2 separate regions of the Homo sapiens genome follow, and region 1 is linked to region 2. The links come from fine-mapping of genetic effects on gene expression. A gene starts in region 2. The other region holds a variant in brackets. All regions are shown on one strand. Distances are from middle to middle. Region 1 holds the start of STX4 (syntaxin 4). Region 2 holds the start of STX1B (syntaxin 1B).

The links.
Region 1: its variant is fine-mapped to the expression of STX1B in tibial nerve (GTEx, PIP 0.94).

Annotation. Positions count from the first base shown.
Region 1 is chr16:31,028,323-31,040,482 of GRCh38, forward strand. It overlaps STX4 (syntaxin 4), which reads left to right and starts at 5,236. Exons shown (of 11, transcript NM_004604.5): 1 at 5,236-5,513; 2 at 5,691-5,792; 3 at 5,904-6,003; 4 at 6,140-6,214; 5 at 6,648-6,718; 6 at 9,604-9,712; 7 at 9,792-9,868; 8 at 10,188-10,325; 9 at 11,219-11,329; 10 at 11,401-11,496; 11 at 11,590-11,842. The coding sequence starts at 5,484. The coding sequence ends at 11,481. RefSeq lists enhancers at 4,560-5,071, 5,584-6,094. The variant A/G (reference allele first, on the strand shown) is at 5,040.
Region 2 is chr16:31,003,867-31,016,026 of GRCh38, forward strand. STX1B (syntaxin 1B) reads right to left here and starts at 6,772. Exons shown (of 10, transcript NM_052874.5): 1 at 6,501-6,772. The coding sequence starts at 6,530. RefSeq lists an enhancer at 6,808-7,309.

The DNA of each region.
Region 1 (12,160 bases), 24 kb after region 2:
GGCAAGGCTGATAGCCCTGGCCCTGGTGCACAGTGGGACCCAGAAGACGGAGAGCAGAAGGAAGTCCCCAGATAGGCAGCAACATGGACCCTCTAGCAGAGACATTAGAGCTGCTAAAAGATTCAGAGTAACAATCATCGCCGTCATACAACAGCAGGAAGCACTGACATACTGACATTCCACACCAGGTGCTGTTCTGTTTGCTTTACAAATATCACTTCATCTTTACAGCAGTCCTATGAATATGGTGCTATTATTATTTGGATTTTTCTGTTTCTTTTTTTTGAGATGGAGTTTCGCTCTTGTTGCCCCCAGCGTACAATGGCGCAGTCTTGGCTCACTGCAACTTCCGCCTCCCAGGTTCAGGCGATTCTCCTGACTCAGCCTCTCAAGTAGCTGGGATTACAGGCATGTGCCACCACGCCCGGCTAATTTTGTATTTTTAGGAGAGACGGGGTTTCTCCATGTTGGTCAGGCTGGTCTCGAACCCCGGACTTCAGGTGATCTGCCAGCCTTGGTGAGGGCCGGGAACGGTGGCTCATGCCTATAATCCCAGCATTCTGGGAGGCCAAGGCGGGTGGATCACCTGAGGTCGGGAGTTTGAGACCAGCCTGACCAACATGGAGAAGCCCCATTTCTACTAAAAATATAAAATTAGCCGGCTTGGTGGTGGGCACCTGTAATCCCAGCTACTCGGGAAGCTGAGGCAGGAGAATCACCTGAACCCAGGATGTGGAGGCTGCGGTGAGCCAAAATCACACCACTGCATTCTAGCCTGGTGACCTGGAGAGACTCTGTCTCAAAAAACAACAACAACCAAAAAAACAAAAACAAAAACAAAAACAAAAAAAAATGAGAACTGAGGTATAGAAAGGTTATATAACTTGCCTCCTAGAGTTATTACAGTGGGTGAATGGGCTGGGATTCCAACCCAGGTCATCTGGCTCCCATGTGGATAGGTCTGGACCCACAGGTAGAGGGGACAAGACAAATTGCCAAGCCTCAGGACTGGGTAGAGCAAGACAGGATCAACAACCTCTCCAGTAGTTGGCTCCAACCTAGCAGGTGTGGGAGAGGACCTGTGACAGGGGCGGGAGAAGGCTTAGTGGGGCCGGCAGTCCACCCACTCCTCCCCCAAGACAGTCCAAAGCAATAGGTGACAGCAAGCCCCCAAGGGTGGGTGGAACACGGGAAGCCACCCCAGCTGGTATTTTCCTTGGATCATAGTGTAGAAGTTAAGAAACACACCCCACCCCCCAACAGCTGCACAGTCTGGAGCGAATATACACGCCCACCACCCACACACCCAAGACCCAATACACTTTTTTAAACTTTATTTTTACTTCTATTTATTTATTTTTAATTATTTTTTAAAAATCTAATTAGAGATGAGGTCTTAGGCTGGGCACAGTGGCTCATGCCTGTAACCCCAGCACTTCGGGAGGCCGAGGCAGGCAGATCACGAGGCGGGAGGATCACGAGGTCAGGAGTTCGAGACCAGCCTGGCCAATATGGTGAAACCCCATCTCTGCTAAAAATACAAAAATGAGCTGGGCGCGGTGGTGTGCACCTGTAATCTCAGCTACTTGGGAGGCTGAGGCAGAATTGTTTGAACTCAGGAGGCGGATGCTGCAGTGAGCTGAGATCGTGCCACTGCACTCCAGTCTGGGAGACAGAGCGAGACTACGTCTCAAAACAAACAAACAAACAAACAACAACAACAAAAACAGAGATAAGGTCTTGGCATGTTGCCCAGGCTGGTCTCAAGTCCTGGGCTCAAAGGATTCTCCTGCCTCAGCCTCCCAAAGTGCTAGGATTACAGGCGTGAACCACTGCACCCACCCTACTTTTTTTTTTTTTTTTTTTTATACAGGATCTCACTCTGTCACCCGGGCTGGAGTGCAGTGGCAAGATCACTGCTGACTGTACCCTTGACCTCAGGGACTCAAGTGATCCTCCTGCCTCAGCCTCCTGAGTAGCTGGGACTACAGGAGAGCGCCAGCACACCTGGGTAATTAAGATTTTTTTTGTAGAGACAGACGCTATGTTGCCCAGGCTGCTCTCGAACTCCTGGCTTCAAGTGATACACCCTTGGCCTCCTAAAGTGCTGGGATCACAGGCATGAGCCACTGCACCTAGCCTAATATAGTTAATATCCCCGTCAAGGCTGCTCAGAGGGCCTGAGAGGAACAAAGGGCTCAGCTCTGGAGAGCTCCACCCCCAGCGCCAATCTCTCTAAATGGCCTCTTTCCTCTCCATATTCCACCACAAGGCTTGGAGTCCAGCTTCCTGTGACCTTAAGTCACCATTCCAAAGCCCTGCGATCTCACCCAGAGACCACAAGTGAAATAATATTATAATCCTGAGAAGTTTAGTGGACCAAGATGGCATGCCATCAAGACGCTGAGAAACAAAGAGGAAGATGGGACCAGGGGGCCCAGAAGACGCTGGAACCCACAGTATTAAAAGCTCAGAGAGGCTGGGCACAGTGGCTCACACCTGTAATCCCAGCACTTTGGGAGGCCAAGGTGGGTGGATCACTTGAGCCCAGGGGTTTGAGAACAGCCTGGGCAACATGGCGAAACCCAGTCTCTACCAAAAAATATACAAAAATTAGCCAGGCATGGTGGTGCGTGCCTTAGTACCAGCTACTTGGGAGGCTGAGGCAGGAGGATTGACTGAACCTGAGAGCACACCACTGCACTCCAGCCTGGATGACAGAACCAGACCTGACCTCAAAGAGAAGAAAAAAAAAAAAAAAAAAAAGCCCAGAGGGGAGGGTACCCTCAACAGTTTTCCAGCCCCTTCCACATCCTTCCTAACCTCACTTGATAGTGTTCAAGTCCTACCTTAGGCAAGGCAGAAATTATAGGACCAAGCCGCCAAATGGGGAAATTGAGTCCCAGAGAGAAGTAATGCATTATTTAAGATCCCATGCAGGACTATGAGTCAGGGGTCCAAGAGCCCTTCCACCGTGTGCCACTCAGAGACACAGAGTAGGAGGGGGAAGGGGGTCGGGTGGCAGGGGACAAAAGATGCAGGAGGCAAGCAGCAGTGACTGAAGAGGCAGAGGCTGACATGAAAGACCCAGGAGCAGAGAATCTTTCCTTATCATCTCCAGGGGACACCACTGGGCAGGGCTTGGCCTCCGGAAAAACCCTGCATTCCCTCTGTGGGTTCATCAGGGCACCACTCTCCTACTAGCTGGGTTTTTTTTTTTTGTTTTGTTTTGTTTTTGAGACAGAGTCTTACTCTGTCACCTAGGCTGGAGTGCAATGGCGTGATCTCAGCTCACTGTAACCTCCACCTCCCATGTTCAAGCAATCCTCCTGTCTCAGCCTCCCAAGTAGCTGGGATTACAGGCACCTGCCATCATGCCTGGCTAATTTTTGTATGTTTGTAGAGACAGGGTTTCGCCATGTTGGCCAGGCTGGTCTCCAACTCCTGGCCTCAGGTGATCTGCCTGCCTCAGCCTCCCAAAGTGCTGGGATTACAGGCATGAGCCACCACACCCTGCCTGAGCTGGGTTTTAACAGGAAGAGGAGAAGAGCCAAAACTCCTCACATAGAATCACACAGCACTTGACAGTTTCCAACCTCATCATCACTGAAGTTTAGAGCAGCCGATACCCATAAAGATGATCTCCCCATCCCCCTACAGTTACCCACTGTGCAGAGGGAGATCCACACTTAGAGACAGGAAGCGATTTCCAGAAGTCCATAGCAACTCAGTCCCAGGAATCTAGGTTTCCTGACCAGGGCATAGCAGAAAGGGTCCATTCCTTTCCTTGCTTGTACCTTCACAGAAGCTTCCTGGACAGAGCCCTGGGGTCCAGGAGACCTGTTATTCATTCCCGGCTATGCTGAGACTTGCTGAGTGACCTTGGGGACTCCTTCTAGAGAATATAAGTTCCACGAGTGCAGGAATTTTTGTCTATTAGTCCTTGATGTATCTCCAGCCCTAGAACAGTGTTTGGCCCATACTATGTGCCCAAAAAATATCCATTAAATGACTGAATGTTGCTGTGCATGGTGGTGCATGCCTGTAATCCCAGCACTTTGGGAAGCTGAGGCAGAAGGATTGCTTAAGCCCAGGAGTTAGAGACCAGCTTGGACAACATAGTGAGACCGCATCTCGTAAAAATTTTTAAAAATAAAAAATGAGTGAATATCTAGATAGCCAGGATTAGAGAAGTGTCACAGTCAGAAAGCCTGAAGCCTAAAGAAGACCAAGGAACCAGGGGCTTTATCCTCAGATACATGAAAGCCTGAAATTCTGTCCACAAGTATTTATAGAGGGCCCGTAATGTTCTTGGTACTGGGCTAGGAACTCCCCAGATTCAGTTAAGAACAAAGTCATTACCTGGCCTCAGATGCAAGGCAGGGGCTGGGGGGTGTGAGTGGCAGGGAGGCAGCGTGATCAATACAAACACTTTTCTTAGCCTGAGCTGCCCTGACATGGTCTGACGGCTCACAAGGTGGTGAGTGCAGCCGGGCTGCAGTGTTCAAGGAGGGCGCCGGCTGGCCGCCCACCTGTCAGAGGCTGCGCCAGAAGGATGCGGAAGAAGAGATTTCTGCCTTGGCTGAGGTCACTTCCCACCCCCAGATTCCCTGCCCACACAACCCTGCAATTTTCTGACGCTGACGACTCGGATCCTATTATTTCCCGATTTTCAAGGTCCCATGATGCTGACAGCCCCAAATGCTAAGTCGTCAGTCCGCCCACGCCCTGGACCCGAAAGCAATAAAGGCGAGGTCAGCAAGGGTCCTACCACCCACTGCCTCGAAAGGCCTCTGGGGGTGGTCGGCGCGCCCCTCCCCACCTCGCGGGGGCCGTGTGGGCGTCGCTCGGTCGTTGGGGTGCCGGGGACGTCGTGATGAGAACGGCGTCCCAGAGACGGCGGTGACAGAGCCGGGACACGTGACAGTCACAGGGTCACATTCTGCGGTCCACGAGTTTGGGACCGGGCTGGTCACGTGACGCGGTGGGGGCACCATGGGGTGATGTGAGATGCGGGTGTCTCGGATTACGTACAAATG[A/G]CGTATTCCTACCCCTTTTGGCAACCAGATTTCCGTTGGAAGATGCAACGGTTCCGGTGACGGTAGCAAGTTCTCGCGTCCAGGCATCTCCGCTTCCGCTCGGGGCGCAACAACTTCCGACTCCACCTTCCCAGCCTCGGGCAAGGAAGAGACGCGACCATGTGCGCATGCCCCGAATTTATCACGGAGGGGCGGGGCTGAGGCTGCGGGAGCTGGAGCGGGGAAGAAAAGGGAATTCCAACCTGTGGAACCTTGGGGGGTCCCCGGGGTCGGCGCCTTCCCATTGACTGTGGGCGGTGCAAGGGACGGAGCCTCTGGCGGCTCGTGGGGGTGTTGGGGTCCGCAGGGGGAGGGAGGGGAGTGTCAGAGTGTGAGCGGGGTACGGGAATTCCAAATTTGAGGGCCTCCCGGCTCTGGCGCCGGGGAGGGAGAGCTCAGGCCGCCATGCGGGACAGGACCCACGAGCTGAGACAGGTGAGACGCCAGGGCAGCGGGGATGGGGACGGGCGGACGAACTGGAACGCAGGACTTCTGGTCTTCGGGATAGGGAGGGGTGGCTGATGGCCAGGAAGGAAAGTCCCGGAAGCCTGTGGGTCCTGCGGGGTAAGAGCCGCAGCGAAACGGTGGTGCCAATGACTCCGGGCCTGGCAGGGGGATGACAGCTCGGACGAAGAGGACAAGGAGCGGGTCGCGCTGGTGGTGCACCCGGGCACGGCACGGCTGGGGAGCCCGGACGAGGAGTTCTTCCACAAGGTAAGGGGCTGGGGTCTCCGCCTGGATTCGCGAGGGTGTAGGAGGACCCGAGGAGTAGCGTGGTCTGGAGTACCCCATATCTCTTTCAGCCCTCTCGGTCACCCTCCCCAGGTCCGGACAATTCGGCAGACTATTGTCAAACTGGGGAATAAAGTCCAGGAGTTGGAGAAACAGCAGGTCACCATCCTGGCCACGCCCCTTCCCGAGGAGAGTGAGTGAAACCCCGGCTGCAGGGCGCATGCTCCGCCCCAGGGATTGTGGGGGTTGTAGTTCCACGCAGGTGGTGGCCAGAGTGGTTTGTTGAGGTGGGGGCTGCTGTTTGGGAGTCTTGGCCTTCTCTTATTCAGGCATGAAGCAGGAGCTGCAGAACCTGCGCGATGAGATCAAACAGCTGGGGAGGGAGATCCGCCTGCAGCTGAAGGGTGAGCTCCTGGGACCTCAGACAGATCCTTCCCTCTGATCCTGCCCTGTTGTTGGTATATCTGGGGAGTGTGTGGCCCAGAGAAGCCAGTGATATATCCAGGTCACACAGCAGGCCTGGGTCTAGCATCTGTCTCCTGGCCTCCAGGCCATTGTACTCTCCACAGCACAAGTCCGCCTCTCAGGTTCTTTTATTTACAATGAAACCATTTACTTACACAGTTATCGCTGCCCACTGGGCATTCTTTGGGCAGGGAGATGGAGTTTTGTTAGGTGGCCTCTGCATACCTATGGGAACTCAGTGATGTAATGCAAAGAAAAATAAACTTACTTTCTCCTCTTAGAGGCTCAGCCTTAGTCATTTTATGATAAATTATATTTCCCTAAAAATCCTATGGAGACAAGTACCCCCAATACCCCTGTGTCTTCCCACAGCCATAGAGCCCCAGAAGGAGGAAGCTGATGAGAACTATAACTCCGTCAACACAAGAATGAGAAAAACCCAGGTGGGTTTTTTTTCTCAGAAATGAGGACATTTCAGCAAATGTTTCATGAAGTATTAGATGACAGGTGTATGAAGGAAGGGCCTGCAGAGATCATGGAGTCCAATTGGATGACTTTTCCAAATGGGGAAACTGAGCTCAGAGAGAGAAAGAACTTGCTCAAGGTCAGGAAGCCAGGTCTCCTGATGCTCAGTCCGGTTATAACACCCTGCTTTATTTTCTTCCATTCAATAGGAAGTTACTGTGACCCCAGACAAGACCTAGTCTTGGCTGTGGGACACATGTTTTCTTTTCTTTTTTTGCCTCAGCCTCCTGAATAGCTGGGATTACAGGCGGACACCCCCATGCCCAGCTAATTTTTGTAGTTTTAGTAGAGACTGGGCTTCACCATGTTGGCCAGGCTGGTTTCGAACTCCTGACCTCAGGTGACCCTCCTGCCTCGGCCTCCCAAAGTGCTGAATTACAGGCGTGAGCCACCATGCCCAGCTGGGACACATGTTTTCTGGGAGTCAAGATGAGGAGTTAGGGTTCAATAGGGGATAAAGACATTACTCACGTGGGACCTGGTGGCTAACGGCGCTGCCCAGGGAAGGAGAGTGAGAAGTCATAAATGACTGGCAGGTTTCCTATCTATGTGACAGGGACATCCTTAGTCCCACAGGTGGAATTCAAGAAGTCAGGAAGAGGAACTTCCTTGGGGCAACACTGAAGAGGAACTCCCCTGGTGTGATATCTTATTTTTTTAATTATTATTATTTTTTTGAGATGGAGTCTCACTCTGTCCCTCAGGCTGGAGTACAGTGGCACAATCTTGGCTCACTGCAACCTCCACCTCCTTCAAGCGATTCTCCTGCCTCAGCCTCACGAGTAGCTGGGATTACAGGTGTGCACCACCACACCTGGCTAATTTTTTATATTTTTGGTAGAAATGAGGTTTCACCTTGTTGGCCAGGCTGGTCTCGAACTCCTGATCTCAACTGATCCACCTGCTTTGGCCTCGCAAAGTGCTATGATTATAGGCATGAGCCACCGCGCGCGGCCCCTGGGGTGATATCTTAGTAAGGAGATTTGCAGTGATCTGACTGGCCCTCTCTGGGTCCCCAGTGAGGAGGATACCAGGAGGTCAGGGTTGGAGTAGTTGGGCCCAGGGCTCAGCAGGGACCCCAGATTGAAGATGGAGCAGCTTGGGCATCTTGGAAGGGTGAAGCTGGAACCAGGAAAGCAGATGTATCTCTGGAAAAGGAACTCCAAGGAATGAGCATATTTAAGGCCTCAGAAGAAGGGGCAAGGCAGAGCAGATGCCCCAGAACCAGTGTTTCTGGGGAAGCCTGTGGTGGTGATTGGCATGAGTGGTTGAGGGTCCATGTGGGCCTGTTGCACCTGTTTCGCCCAGGCAACATGTTCATCTCTAGGCGTAGGAGCTGTGGTGTAGGCAGCGAGGTTGGCATTCAGCAAGCATTCAGCAGTTACATATTGGGTGCCTACTGTGTGCCAGACCTTTTTGGAACTGTTTAGGATACAGCAGTGAACCAGTGATCCCTGTCCTCATGGAACTTCCCTTCTGGTGTAGACAATCACCATAATAAATAAGTGAATTATTTAGAACATAATAAGCATTAAGGAAAAAAGAGCAGGGGAAGAGGGACTAAGCATGCTGGAGGAGGTAGAGTTGCAGTTGAAAGCAGGTGGAGGAAGCTTCATTCAGAAGGTAACATCTGAACAAGAGACTTAAAGGTGTTTGCTGGGAATGAGCATTCTAGGTAGAAGGAAAAGTGAATGCAAAGGCTTAAGCTGAGAGTGTGCTTTGTCTAGGGAGGGGTAAGGAGACCAGTGTGGATGGGCAGAGGAAGGGAACAGTAAGAGGAAGTAAGATCAGAGAGGTCATGGGAGAAGGAGAGATCATAGAGGGCTAGCCAGGCACCGTGGCTCACGCCTGTAATCCCAGCACTTTGGAGGCTGAGGTGGGAGGATTGGTTGAGCCCAGGAGTTTGAGACCAGCCTGGGCAATATAGTGAGACCCCCCCCCCTTTTTTTTTTTTCCTTTGAGACAGGGTCTCACTCTGTTGCCCAGGCTGGAGTACAGTGGTGCCATCTCTGCTCACTGCAACCTCCGCCTCCTGGGTTCAAGCCATTCTCTTGCTTCAGCCTCCCAAGTAGCTGGGACTACAGGCGCCCACCACTGCACCAAGCTAATTTCTGTACTTTTAGTAGAGATGGGGTTTCACCACGTTGGCCAGGCTGGTCTTGACCTCCTGACCTCAGGTGATCCACCTGCCTCAGCCTCCCAAAGTGCTGGGATCACAGGCATGAGCCACCGTGCCCGGCCAACCCTGTCTCTATTAAAAATAAAAATAGGCCAGGTGCAGTGGCTCACGCCTGTAATGGAGGCCGAGGCAGGTGGATCACAAGGTCAAGAGATCAAGACCATCCTGGCCAACATGGTGAAACCCCATCTCTACTAAAAATACAAAAATTAGCCGTGCGTGGTGGCGCGTGCCTGTAGTCCCAGCTACTCGGGAGGCTGAGGCAAGAGAATTGCTTGAACCCGGGAGGCCAAGGTTGCAGTGAGCCGAGATTGTGCCACTGCACTCCAGCCTGGGCAACAAGAGTGAAACTCTGTCTCAAAAAACAAATAATAAATAAATAAATAAATAAATAAATAAATAAATAAATAAAAAAGATCATGGAGGACCACATAGGCCTGATAAGGGCTTTGGCTTTTAGTCTAAGAGAAATGGGGGAGCCTGTCAAGGTCATCACAAGGTGGTTAAGGTGGCAGATCCCGCATAAGAGCTCATGCTATTTGCTCACTGTACTATGGGGTTGCCGAGGCACCGACCGGGCAGGGATCCTCCCAGGGGCACTCAGCCTATATTCTTCATCTTTAGCATGGGGTCCTGTCCCAGCAATTCGTGGAGCTCATCAACAAGTGCAATTCAATGCAGTCCGAATACCGGGAGAAGAACGTGGAGCGGATTCGGAGGCAGCTGAAGATCAGTGAGTTGTGCATGCCCAGCCTGGCCCGCAGGGGCAGGTAATCCCAACCCAACCCTGAGCCTGGCCTTTTCCTTCACAGCCAATGCTGGGATGGTGTCTGATGAGGAGTTGGAGCAGATGCTGGACAGTGGGCAAAGCGAGGTGTTTGTGTCCAATGTGAGTGGCCACAGCCAGCCCCTCTCTGCTGTGCCTCCCATCCCCTCTGAGTCCTGTCCGTTTCTCGACCTCCTGGGCTCAGGTGATCCTCCTGCCTCAGCCTCCCGAGTAGCTGGGACTATAGGTGCAAGCCACTGCACCCCGCTTGCTGTGGCCCTTTCTGATTAAGGGCACCCTGAGGCCTCTAAGGGAATTAATTAGCCTGCCTGGAGTCACCCATCAGATTCCAGGCTGAGGGCTCCCCAGAAGCTCAACAGGAGTTTCTGACCTGCTGTCGGTCTCCCTGTGAACAGTTGCCCCACTCCTGTCCACCCCCCAGATCCTGAAGGACACGCAGGTGACTCGACAGGCCTTAAATGAGATCTCGGCCCGGCACAGTGAGATCCAGCAGCTTGAACGCAGTATTCGTGAGCTGCACGACATATTCACTTTTCTGGCTACCGAAGTGGAGATGCAGGTGGGTGCCCCGCGCAGCCCCAGACGTGAGACCAGGCTCAGTCCAAACTGCCAGCCTCCCGCCACCCTTAGATTCTCTCCCTGAGGCTTTTGTGTCTTCCAGGTTTGGCCATGCCCCCAGATTGGTGCTTATTCCTATCCTTAGCTGTACCCCGAGAATGGCACCTGCCTCTGCTGCTACACAGATGCCCACTCCCTTCTGCATAGCACCCTGCCCCCTCTCCAAAACTTGAGCCTGCCCAGGTCTGGCCCCAGCCCTCACTCCCCCTCCACTAACAGCATCCACCCTTATACCTCTCAGAGGTCCAGTCAGAGTTGCCCTAGAGGGGCTGCCTCCTAACATCTGTACAAGGCTGGGGTGGGGGCGGCGTTCCCCTGGCCCTGGTTGTGAGTTGAGTTGAGCTTCCAGCCCTGTCCTGGAGGAGCTGGCCTCAGTCATGCTACAGCCAATGCCCTTTTGCAGCTGAGACTTACAGGAAAGAGATCTCATTCAGTAGGAGTACTGAGACCTGAGGCTGGTGGTGCCAGGAGGAGGCAGGGATAGGGAGGGCTTTGCAGCAGCTGTAGATAGGCCTGGAAGAATGGGTAAATTCAGACAGATTTGTGAAGGCACAGTTCACCATCTGTGAAAGGTATGAGCCATTTGAGGCCCTTAGCTCCAAGCTACCACTGCAGATAGAGGTTGTATGGGATAAGTGAGCAGGGGACAAGGGACTACATGATAGAAGGGGCCTGGAAGCCATCCCCAAGGAGTCTGAACTTTTGTCAGATCAAGTCTTGCCCTTGTCTTTGTTAGTGCAATTTTTTTTTCCTGCCAGGAATGTTCTTCAGTCATCTGGGGTGGGGTGGGCAAAGGCATCCTTACCTCCCTGAACCACCCCATCCTCTGAGCAGGGGGAGATGATCAATCGGATTGAGAAGAACATCCTGAGCTCAGCGGACTACGTGGAACGTGGGCAGGAGCACGTCAAGACGGCCCTGGAGAACCAGAAGAAGGCGAGGAAGGTGAGCCTCCCAGGCCCGGCCACTGCCCCAGGCACCCTGTGTGACTTCCCTGACCCCCTCCTCTCCCACAGAAGAAAGTCTTGATTGCCATCTGTGTGTCCATCACCGTCGTCCTCCTAGCAGTCATCATTGGCGTCACAGTGGTTGGATAATGTCGCACATTGTTGGTGAGATGTTGTGGGCTGCCCCCTGGCCTGCCCCAGCCCTGGCCCCAGCCCTCCCTCCTCCCTCAGACCCTGTTCTCCCTCCTTTCCTTACAGGCACTAGGAGCACCAGGAACCCAGGGCCTGGCCTTCTCTCCCAGCAGCCTGGGGGGCAGGGCAGAGCCTCCAGTCGGACCCCTTCCTCACACTGGCCCCTATGCAGAAGGGCAGACAGTTCTTCTGGGGTTGGCAGCTGCTCATTCATGATGGCCTCCTCCTTCAGGCCTCAATGCCTGGGGGAGGCCTGCACTGTCCTGATTGGCCGGGACACACGGTTTTGTAAAAAATTAAAAAACAAAAAAAGAGCATAGAAAGCCCTGTGCACGTGTGTTCCTGGAAGGGCTGGCCCAAGGCTTCCGGGCATCCAACCTCCTTACCTCCTGGACGTCCCCAGGGCCAGGTCTGGCCCTGGCTGCTCAGGTCAAACTGCCAGGGGTGCTGTGCCCACAGCAGGCTGGTTCTGCCTTTCTGCACCCCCATAGGAATGGGTGGGCAGGGAGGGGTAACACCGGCATCTAGCTCCTGGCTCAGTACTGTCCCCGGGAAAGGACCACTGTGAGTATCTGTCTTGGAAATGATGAGGCTGACCAGGCCAGGCTGGGACGCAGGTGAGATGGGGGTTTGGGTG
Region 2 (12,160 bases):
AAAGCTGCATAAACATCATCGTCCCCATTTCACAGATGAGGGAACAGGAAGCCAGGGGGGTAAAAGGAGAGTGACTTGCCCAAGGGCACCCAGGCCACATAGGGCCAGAAAACCATGGGCATCCAGCCCCTCAAAGACCGCTGTTAGGCTCCAGACTGGGCTACCTCCCCCACTGACTTTCCGCTCCCAGTTACTTTCCCTCTCAGTGAGCGCCTGCTAAGTCCCAATCTGGGGAAGGCTCTGTGTCCGGACAACCTAGCAAAACAAGAGCACTTGATGGTATTTTTTGCGTAAGTCTTACATTCTTGTTATCTCATTTAATCTTCATTAGGACTCTGTAAGGACCATTGGCCAACATAATTATACTTATGCAAATATTTAGATGATGTTTTACAATGTGCCAGGCACTGTTCTATGTGCTCCACATATATCTATCCATTTCATTCTTACAACAGTCCCCTTGGAGGTATTATTATAGCCCCCTTTTATAGATGGGGAAACTGAGGCATAGAGCTAAATAACTCAGGCCAGTTGTAGTGGCTCACGCCTGTAATCCCAGCACTTTGGGAGGCTCTGGTGGGAGGATCACTTGAACCCAGGAGTTCAAGACCAGCCTGGGCAACATAGCAAGATCATGTCTCTACAAAAAATACAAAAATTAGCTGGGCATGGTGGTGCGCACCTGTAGTCTCAGCTACTTGGGAGGGTGAGGTAGGAGGATCCCCGGAGCTCAGGAGGTCAAGAGACTGCAGTGAGCTGTGATTGTGCCACTGCACTCCAGCCTGGGTGACAGAGCAAGACCCCGTTTCTTAAAAAAAAAAAAAAAAGAACTTGCCCCAGGTCAGCTGTTAGAAGACCATTTGGCTCTACCCCTGAGCCTAGTCTCTGCATTTGCTGAGTGGTAACAATGCCTACCACCGGCTGATTCCATGTTACAGACAAGGAAACAGGCTCAGAGAGGTTGCCTGACCTGCCTAAAGCTTCACAGCAAATGAGGCCAGAGGTAGGACCTGAACCCAGGACTGTCTGGCACTAAATGTCAGGCTCTCTCCCTTCTGTCCTGCTGACAGATGGCAGTCCCTCCTGGTCCTAAAAAGCCCACTCTGCCATGTCCTCAGGACTGCTGAACTCCTGCAGCCAGGACAGAAAATCAGTAGGAGGGGCCCAGGGCTGCAGGAAGAGCTTGGACAGGAGGCCATCCCTCCCAGCCTCCGTCTGTCTTGCTGTGTGACCCCAGGCAAACTTAGACTCCTCCCTGGGCCCCAGTTCCCTCATCACTGAAATGAGCAGACTGGTGCAAGTGCCCACCCTGCTCTGAAGGGCCCTCCGTGCTCTGAGTGATGCATATTTAGTAATGAGTACAGCATCCATTTCTGGAAGAAGTTAGGCCAGCCAAAAAGAAAGCAGGCTGTGGGCAAACCAGACTACCTAGGAAAAGATGATCAAATGTGCCCCAGTCTACTTTATGGTGGCCTCAGGTTACAGGTGAACGATTCAAGCCTCAGTTGCCTCATGTGCAAATCGAGGATGTAACATATATGTGCTGATTACCACGAGTTGGGTCCTATTACAAGTGCTTTGCATTTCTTTTTTTTTCTTTTTCCTTTTTTTTTTTTTTTTTTTGAGAGATGGGATCTCACTATATTGCCCAGGCTGGTCTCGAACTCCTGGGCTCAAGAGATCCTCTCTCCTTGGCCTCCCAAAGCGCTGGGATGACAGGTGTGAGCCACTGCACCCAGCCTGCATCTCTTGTTTAATCCTCACGACCACTCCATGAGGTCATATTCTTATTCTCACTGGACAGATGAGGAGGTGGAGGCGCAGAGAGATTGGGTAACTTGCCCAAGATCACACAGCTGATGGGATGACTCAAACTCAGGCACTCTGCTCTACAGCGCACAGCTCCTTGAGCACTTGAGAGGGATTGAATGAGAGAGTGCAGTGCCCCTGAGCCCCTTCCAGAAGCACCTGGGGACTGCGCACATCAGATCCAAGCCTCCAGCTGCAGCCTGACCTCCTCAGGGGCCCCCTAAGTCCAGGTCTTCCACACCAGAGCCACCACGGGCCTTGTGTGTATGTCGATGTGGAGCGACGGCAAGGACAGATACAGAAGCGGAAGGAGGAGAGTGACAGTGAGAGCCAGCAAGTCAGTGACCAGAGAGACAGATGGTGAGACGGTGACAAAAACACAGAGGCGGCAAGAGACTGGAATTGGGTGACAGAAAAGTCAGAGAGAGTGTGCGTGTGTGTACGTGTGTGTGTGTAAACATATGCGTGCCCCAGCACTGACACACACGGGCTTCCCATGCTCCTCAGGGGTGCAAGCATCATCGTTTGATCGGAGGCAGCAGCCTCCCCCTGCGCCCTTTCCCCCACCCTCTGCTTCAGTCCATCTGTCTCCCTGGCTGGGGCCTCTCCTTGCTCCCTCCCCCTGAGCAGCCTGGCCCTCTCACCCTGACCTCTCTCCTCCATCTTTCCTGCCTTACCCCCTGCCCCTTTCTCATCCTCCCTCTGCTTCATGGAGTCATTCATTCATCTAACGGATGTGTCTGATTTGTGCCAGGTACTCTTCTGGGTGCTGCTGGCGATGTGGTGGTGAAGAAGACAGGCGAGGAGGGCCTGCCTCCAGGGAGCTGGCATTCCAGTGGGGGAGGCAGACAATGGGAGGTGAACAAGACCATTTCAGATTGTGCTGAATAGCAGGAGGGAGATAAGCAGAAAGATGGAATTGAGAGACATGGGAATTGGGGGGGATTGTGGAAGGATTTCTACAGGACAGTTAGCAGGGCTTTTCTGGGGAGGTGACATCTGAGCTAGGTCCTGAAGGAGCCAACTGTGCCACAGTGCTGGGGAAACAGAATTCAGGGCAGAGGGAACAGCATGCTGGGCAGAGGGAACAGCATGCGCGAAGGTCCTTGGACAGGGGTAAACTTGTGTGTTTGGATAGCAGAAAGAAGCCCAGTGCCAGCCGAGCGCGGTGGCTCATGCCTGGAATACCAGCACTTTGGGAGGGCGTGGCGGGAGGATCATTTGAGGCCAGGAGTTCAAGACCAGTCTGGTCAACATAGACCCCATCTCTACAAAAGCAAAAAGAATTAGCCAGGCATGGTGGTGCGCATCTGTAATCCCAGCTACTCGAGAGGCTGTGGCAGGAGGATCCCTGGAGACCAGGAGGTCAAGGCTGCAGTGAGCTGTGATTGCACCGCTGCACTCCAGCCTAGGTGACAGAGGAAGACCATGTCTCTAAAAACATTTTTTTAAATATAAATAAAGGCAGCCCAGAGCAGCTGGAGGATATGGATCCATCACCCAGGGTTCGTTGGTCTCTGCACCCTGTGATTTCAGGGCTGCGTTTCTAAAGCACCTACTGTGCCTGCCTCATACCTGAGGGCCTTTGGGGCACGGGGCGGTCCCTCAGCAGCCTTCATCCTGTCCAGCCTCAGATTCAGGCTCCTGCAGTGCAGGCCCCACCTTCCTCCCAGGGTGTCTCCGCACTTCTCCCACCCGACTCCACAGCTGCGTCTCAGACCTCAGCCCTCCCTGTGCCCCTCCTGTCTTCTCCCATAACCCACCTTCCTCTCCACCTCACTCACTCTGCTCTTTCCTCTGGAGCCCCACTCTGGCTTCACTCCTTAGACCCTGGGACACCTATTTAGCTGATTAACTCCTTTTCACAGCCTCCACAACCAGCCTAGCACCAACCAAGGTTGCCTGGTAAACTGGACGCAGAAAACCCTGGTTCAAGCCCACCTCAACCATTAAAAGCTATCTGACCTTGGACAAGTCAGGTTTTTTTTACCCCCTCTGGCCCTCAATGTACTCCAAAATAAAATAGGGGCCATGTCCTGCCCATCGCAGGGGGCTTGTGTGGTGTTGAAGAGAAATAAACAAGCCATCTGCTGGGTAACAGACACACAGCACTGCTGGGCGCCAGGCCCCCTCCTAGGCACCTGATGCATATTAACTACTTCCAGTCCTCAGGACAACCCTGTGAAACAGGCACTCTTACTTCTCCCAACTCATACGCGAAGAAATTGAGGACCAGAGAGGTTAAGCAACTTGCCCAAGGTCTCACAGGAAGTAGCAAAATTAGAATTTGAACCCAGACAGTCTGGCTCCCGAAACCACTGTGTGACAAACGGACTTGAGAACCCCTTGGGAATGCCAAGGTACTGTTGGAAAGACAATCAGTCCCCTGGGCTAATGTCCCCTCCCACCACCGCCCCTGCCTCATCCCTCCCAGTGTCTCAGAGACCCCGTTTCCAGGTCCCCCACACCCTGCCAGGTGTCTCCTGCATCCCAGGCTCCTTGCTTTCAACTGTAGCAGGGAGACCCTTACGCTACCTGAATCTGTCAGCTTTTCCCACCCCGCCCGCCCCCTCTTGAATCTCCAGTTTCCCTGAGCTGTGACTAATACCAAAGCCACCACATCCACTCAGCCCCTTCACCCTTCCACACCACCTCCGGCAGCCACAGCCAACAGGATTCCTTACCTCTGAGCAGGGGCCCCTGACTCATTCATGAGGCCTCCCCCTCCCCTGCCTCCCCCTTACCCCGCTTAGCCTTTTCCCTCCCTCTTTCTCGAATTGTACCCCAATTCCACACCACCTGATCCCAACCCACTTCCATTTCCCTGGGTTTTGGAGTCATGGAATAGTCCTGGTAGCAGGGGAACTGGGTTCAAGTCCGGATCCCTCACCTGCTAGCTGTGTGACCTTTGGAAAGTTATTCAACCACTCTGGGCCTCAGTTTCCCCAACTCTAAAATGAAAGAGCCTCCCCGTCCACTTGCCAGGAGGTCAGTGGGGCTCTAATGACATCACGGATGAAAGCCTGCTCTGCAAACTGAGGAGGGGAATTGACAGCACCGATGCTGAAGCCGGCCTGCCTGGGTTTGAATCCTGCCTTTACCAGCTGTGTGACTTTGGTCTAATTACTTAACCTCTCTGAGCTTAGTGTCCTTATCTATAAAATGAGATAACATATATCTATATATCTAAAAAGATATTTATATATCTATGAAATGAGATAACCAGTCTCATAGGATTGCTGTGAGGATCAAAATGAGTGAATATGCATAAAACACTTCAAACAATGTTTATTATTACTGTCACTTTCCTCATGCCTGAGTGTATATTCAGTAAAAATGTAATAAAGAAACCTTTAAAATTCCCTCCCTCAGCCACCAGCTCCTCCTTGCTTCCCATTTGGCAACCTGTCTGTCCCCAGAGACAGCGGTCACTTGCCTCCAAACACCTTCTTCTCGTCTGTCTGTAACCTGGGTCCCCACCCCCAAATCCAGGGGACAGCTCTTCACCCCCAGTGCTGAAACTTCTGTTTCAAAGGCCAGAAAAGCAGAGACCTGTGTCAACCTAGCAGACAGGAAACCCAGATTGCAGTCTGCCCCCCACCCACTTGCTTGGTGACCTTGGACAAGTCCCTTCCCACGCCTGAATCTCAGTTTCCTCATCTGTCAAGTGGGGTAATAACCCCTGGGGTAACAACCCACCAGTTCCCTGTAAAGGCTCAGTGCATTGGGCAGCTCAGCCGGGGCCGGTACCCTTATTAACATAACACCACCAGCCCAGCACAGTGCGGACTGTCAGTGCTGCCTCCTCGGGCCCCAGGTCATTTCTCCAAATACCCCAGCGTCCTCCCTGCCCCTGAAACCATTCTCATCGAACCCCACTCCCCAGTTCCTCCAGGTAGCAGCCTCCACTGCAGTCCTTCCCCTGTCCCCCCAAAACCAGGGACTGCCTGGCCAGACTCTTGGAGCCGGGCCTCTTCAGGCCTGCAGACCTGGGGCCTGCATCAGCCCTTGACTGCCCGGGGTGCCCCAGTTCCCCCAAGCAGAGCACGGCCCGTGTTCCATGGCCCTCTCCTCTGCATCCCCATCTCCCACCTCTGGGTCACCCTGTCTCAGGCCCTGGCCCTCTGGCTCTCTCCGGAGGCCACCTCTTCCCTCCCTGTCTCGGAGAGATGCCCCCTCCCTATAGGGAGTGACACACGCGTGTGCACACACACACACACTTCATTCACTGCCAGGTGCTGGCATCTCAGTCCCAACCTGTGTCCTTCCCCGTAGCATCCCCTGAATCTGGGTCCTGCTAGACTCTCAGCCTGGCCCAGTCACCGCCCCCATGCTTCTCTTTGGCAAACCTGCCCAGGGGATGACAGTCTCCTCCGGTTTCTCCTGATATCCACTCTCTCCCATCCCCAGACCAGACCCCGGGGCCCTCCTGGGAATGCGGGGTGTTCGAGGCCCCTGAGACCTCTCCTGCCCCCTTGTGTCTTCATGGCCTCCAACCCCTTCCAGGCACTGTCCCCAAAATGCAGGTTCACTGGAGAGACATCAGGCGCCTGAAGATACTGGGGTGCTCCGGCTACCAACCTCCGATCTCATCCTTCGCCCCCACGTCCCAGCACCTCCCCCACTCCATCCCCACGCGCTCCCCCAATATTGGGGTCCCGCCCCCCCATTCTCCCCACCCCCAAGCTCACACTCCGCAGCTCTTGAGTCCGATCCTTCATCCTGCGACGGCTCCTCCTCCTCCTCCTAGTCCTCCTGCCTCTGCTGCTGCTCCGGGTCTCCCGCCTCTGTGCCGGAGGCCGGGGTCTGGGGGCGCCGGGGGGCGCCGCGGCCGCTGCGGGGGGCCTGCGGGCGGGGGCGGGGCCGGGGGCGACTGGCCGAGGGCCGGGCAGGGGCAGGGGCCTGGGCCGGGCTCGGCTCTGCCGGGCTGCGGTGGCGATGCGGCTGCGGCACAGGGTAGGATGGAGGGATGCGGGAGCCGAGCGCGGGGGAGGGGGGCGGAGGGAGGTGAGGAGGAAGCGAGGGCGGGGGGAGCGGGAGCGCGCAAGGAGCAGGGGGCATGCGCAGCACCCGGGCCGGGGGCGCCTGGGGGTTGTAGTCACGGGCTTGGGGGACACCCGAGGAGGGGGCGGGAGAGGCCTGGAGGCGGGTGGGGGTGGGCAGAGCCCGAGGAGCAGGGAGAGATGCGGAGAGCCAAGCGGAGATGCTAGGGTGGCCCGGGGGGTGGGGTGGCCCGGCGGAAAGAGGGGGTGACGGAATGAATTCAGGGAATAACCTGGGAGCCAGGATGTGGATCCCTTTCCAGGAGACACAGATCGCGGCTGTGTTTTGTGTCTGGTGTCTGCGTGAGGCTGCGCGCCGACCACCTCTGGGTGCGAGCCCATGTGTGTTCTTGCAGGAGGCTCTTTGGACACTATAAATAGAAAGACCGACCCTCTGTGTGGTTTTTACGATGCAGGGAACCAGCCAGGTGCTTGCTGAGAAGGACACGGGGCTTGTGTTGCACAGCCTGGGCCTCTCCCGCCGCGGTGGGTCTCGGAGCTCTGCTTGTCTGCCTCCAGGGACAGGGTGCTCACTACCTCCCAGGACCTCTTGGCCCATCTGCAGATGGCTCTGACTGTTGAACATGAAATTTGTCCTTAGTGGGAGGGGAAATCAGGTGCCCCTGAGGGTCTGAGTGACCTCCTGTTCTGATGCCCACCTCTCCTCTCCCCATCCTTACACCACACCAGCTCCTCCCACCCCCTGCAATGGGGCGCCGGTCCCCAATGGGACAGGTCTTGACTCTCAATCGATCCTCCTGCCTCAGCCTCCCAAAGTGCTGGGATTCCATGCCTGGGCCACCGCACCCGGCATTCTCTTGCCAGGTACCCAGTGACCTCCTTGGTGCCAAATCTGTGTCTGATAAACCCTCATCCCACACCGCCAGTCGGGCCTTACCATCCCTGACCTCTCAGCAGCATGTGACCCTGATGAGCCCCTCTTCCTGAAACCCTCCTGTCTGTGGTGCTCCGCCCACCTACCCCCCAACCTGATCTGTGAGTGTTGTCTCCCAGCCTCTTTCCAGGTCCTTACCTTTTTTCCCACAGCCCTTCAACCTCAGGGTTCCCTGGGCTCCGTCCATTCTCTCTTTTTTTTTTTTTTTGAGTTAGGGTCTCATTCTGTTGCCCAGGCTAGAGTACAGTGGTGCAATCTCGGCTCACTGCAGCCTCAACGTCCCAGGCTCAAGTGATCCTCCCACCTCAGCCTCCTGAGTAGCTGGGACTACAGGCACGCGCCACCACACCTGGCTAATTTTATTTTTTGTAGAGACAGGGTCTCACTATGTTGTCCAGGCTGGTTTTGAACTCCTAGGGTCAAGCGATCCTCCTGCCTCAGCCTCCCAAAGTGCTGAGATTACAGGCCTGGGCCACCATGCCTGGCATTCTCTTCCTTCTTTACCTGCATCTTTCTGCACCTCCGTGTCTGCAGTGCCCACATCTGTACCTGCGAGCCAGATCCTCCCCCTGTAAGACAGCCCCTACTATATGCCTAAGCTCTGAGCTGGGCACCAAGAAGACAGAGATTGAAGATGCCACCAGAGCCATGAGTAGATCCATGACTACAGTGGGCATGGCTAGCGCTGACGTGGGGACCTCAAGGAGGTGGCTGTCCCCAAAGTGTTCCTTCCTGTGTTCTCCCTCAGAGATGGCGTCATCTCCATCCACCCAGCCACTCAAAGCACAGAAAGCTGTCCTTGCCTCCCCGCCATTATAATGCCAGCACGTTCTGGGCATCCAACGTGTTGCATTCACTATGCTGGTAGCTCCCAGAAACCTCCCAACCTCACAGTAGCCACTGCTAAGATCCCAAGTGTATAGACAAGGACACTGAGGCTTTGCATGGTCACATAACATATCCAAGTTCACAAGGTTAATAAAGGGCAGGGCTGGGGTCTTGTTTGCTTTTTTTTTTTTTTTTCCAGAGACAGGGTCTCACTCTGTTCCCCAGGCTGGAGTGCAGTGGTGCAATCACACCTCACAGCAGCCTTGACCTCCTGGGCTCAAGCAATCCTCCCATCTCAGCCTCCTGAGTAGCTGGGACTACAGGTGTACACCACTGTGTCCAGCTAATTTTCTTTCTTTCTTTCTTTCTTTTTTTGAGAGAGAGTCTCGCTCTGTCACCCAGGCTGGAGTGCAATGGCGCGATCTTGGCTCACTGCAATCTCCGCCTCCTGGGTTCAAGTGATTCTCCTGCCTCAACCTCCCAAGTAGCTGTGATTACAGGTGCCTGCCACCATGCCTGGCTAATTTTTATATTTTTAGTAGAGACAGGGTTTCGCCATGTTGGCCAGGCTGGTCTGGAACTCCTGACCTCAAATGATCCACCCGCCTTGGCTTCCCAAAGTGCTGGGACTGCAGGTGTGAGCCACTGTGCCTGGCCCTAATTTAACTTTCTTTTTTTCTTTTTTTTGCAGAGACGAGATTGGTCCTAGCCTCCTGGGCTCTCACCTCGGCTTCCCAAGTGCTGGTATTATAGGCATAAGCCACTGTGTCTGACCTTGTTTGTATCTTTTGATTGCAAAGCCCATTCTTCTTTTCTTCTTTCTTCTTCTTCTTCTTCTTCTTCTTCTTCTTCTTCTTCTTCTTCTTCTTCTTCTTCTTCTTCCTCTTCCTCTTCCTCTTCCTCTTCCTCTTCTTTCTTCTTCTTCTTCTTCTTCTTCTTCTTCTTCTTCTTTTCTTCTTCTTCTTCCTCTTCCTCTTCTTCCTCTTCCTCTTCTTCCTCTTCCTCTTCTTCCTCTTCCTCTTCTTCTTCTTCCTTCTCTTTCTTCTTTCTTTTTTCCTTCTCCTTCTCCTTCTTCTTCTTCTTCTTTTTTAAGAGATGGGGTCTTACTCTGTTGCCCAGCCTGGACTCAAACTCCTGGGCTCAGTCTTCCTACCTCATCCTCCTGAGTGGCTGGGACTACAGGGGCACACCACTGCACCTGGCTCACAACCCATTCTTGTAAAAGCATGCTCTTATAGCTCCTCTCTCAACTGTGACACCCAGAGCCGTCTCTAGGCCCTCTCCTGTCCCCACCACCTCAGGTCAGTCTAGGCCCTCACTGTCTTTCACCTGGGCCGTCAGCACAGCCTTCTCTCTCTGGTCTTCCCACTTGAACAAAGCCCCTTTCCTTTACATATGTCTTCCTCCCCAGTCCTTAATGTGATTGCCCCCAAAACAAATGTGACCTGCCGGGCGCAGTGGCTCATGCCTGTAATCCTAGCACTTTGGGAGGCTGAGGCAGGTGGATCACCTGAGGTGGGGAGTTCGAGACCAGCCTGACCAACGTGGAGAAACCCTGTCTCTACTAAATATATGAAATTAGCCAGGCGTAGTGGCACATGCCTGTAATCCCAGGCACTAGGGAGGCTGAGGCAGGAGAATTGCTTGAACCTGGGAGGCGGAGGTTGCAGTAAGCCGAGATCATGCCATTACACTCCAGCCTGGGCAATAAGAGCGAAACTCCATCTCAAAAATACATAAATAAATACATAAAAATAAAAAATAAAAATATAAAAATTAGCCAGGTGTGGTAGCATGTGCCTGTAATCCCAGCTACTCTGGGGGCTGAGGCAACAAGTATGGTTGAACCTGGGAGGCGGAGGTTGGAGTGAGCCAAGATCGTGCCACTGCACTCCAGCCTGGGAGACAGAGCAAGACTCTGTCTCAAAAACAAACAAACAAAAAAATCAGAATGAATAAATGGCATATTCCTGCACCCGTTTTACCCAGGCATAAAGAACAAAGCAAACTGTGAAGGCAGGGAGTTTTGTCTGTTGTGTGTTCACTGCTGGTTCTCCAGTGGCTCCACGGCACCTGGCACATGGTAGGCGCTCAGTAATTATGTGTTATAGGAATGAATGAGTGAATGGCGCACCACTCAAATCTGTCTGCAGCTCTAAAGATGGACACAGGCACACACATATGGCAATTCCTCTCACTGATCAGTGATTTCAAGCTCATTACATTCATGACCACTTATGGGCTACCCAAAGTGAGTCATCTGAATCATGAAGGAACTTCCTATGCAGTCTCCTACCCAGTGCCCCCCACCCTTTTTTTTTTTTTTTTTTTTTTGAGATGGCGCCTTGCTCTGTCACCCAGGCTGGAGTGCAGTGGCACAATCTCCACTCACTGCAACCTCCACCTCCCAGGTTCAAGCGATCCTCCCACTTCAGCCTCCCAAGTAGCTGGGACCACAGGCATGTGCCATCTCACCCATCTAATTTTTTTGTATTTTTTGTAGAGACAGGGTTTCACCATGTTGCCCACGCTGGTCTTGAACTCCTGACCTCAAGCAATCCACCTGCCTTGGCCTCCCAAAAGTGCTGGGATTACAGGTGTGAGCCACTGTGCCTGGCCAAATTTTTAAAGCATTGATATAACCAGGCCAGCCCCTGATCAGAAAATTTCCCTGGTTTCCCATTGCTTATGGGGTAAAGCCCCAATTTCCTAACCTGGCTTTCCACTTTAGGGCATGCCACCTATTCCCACGCACCTTCTACTCCTATCCCGTTATTCCCTGCATTTTTATATCTCCATGCCTTTCCTCGTGTCATTCTTGTCCCCTGGAACTCCCTTCCCTCTAACATCCCCAAGCCCACCTCCTGCTCTTCTATCAAAGTTCAACTACGGTGTCTTTCTTGGCCCTCCTGACGCTAGAGGGAAAGCATAGCCAAATCCAGGCTCAGCTGCTCACTGCCCAAATGCTAAACACGAGACGAGAGTTGGGGGCTGAGCACGGTGGCTCATGCCTGTAATCCCAGCACTTTAGGAAGCCAGGATGGGTGGATCACCTGAGGTCAGGAGTTCAAGACCAGCCTGGCCAACATGGCGAAACCGTCTCTACTAAAAATACAAAAATTAGATGGGCATGGTGGCTCACGTCTGTAATTCCAGCTACTCGGGGGTGCTGAGGCAAGAGAATCGCTTGAATCCGGGAGGTGGAGGTTGCAGTGAGCCGAGATCATGCCACTGCACTCCAGACTGGGCGACAGAATGAGACTCTGTCTCAAAAAAAAAAAAAAAAAAAAGAGTTGGTAGGAGGAAAGCAGGTTTATTCGGAGAGCCAGCAAACCGAGGAGATGGCAGACTAATGTCTGAAAGTCTCATCTCAAAATTTTCAGGCTGGCTGGGTTTTTTTGAGACAAGCTCTCACTCTGTTATCCAGGCTGGAGTACAGTGGCACAGTTATAGTTCACTGCAGCCTTGATCTCCCAGGCTCAAGCGATCCTCCCATGTCAGCCTCTGAAATAGCTGGAACTACAGGCACGTGCCACCAACCTGGCTCACTTTTTGATTTTTTTTGTAGAGATGGGGTCTTGCTATG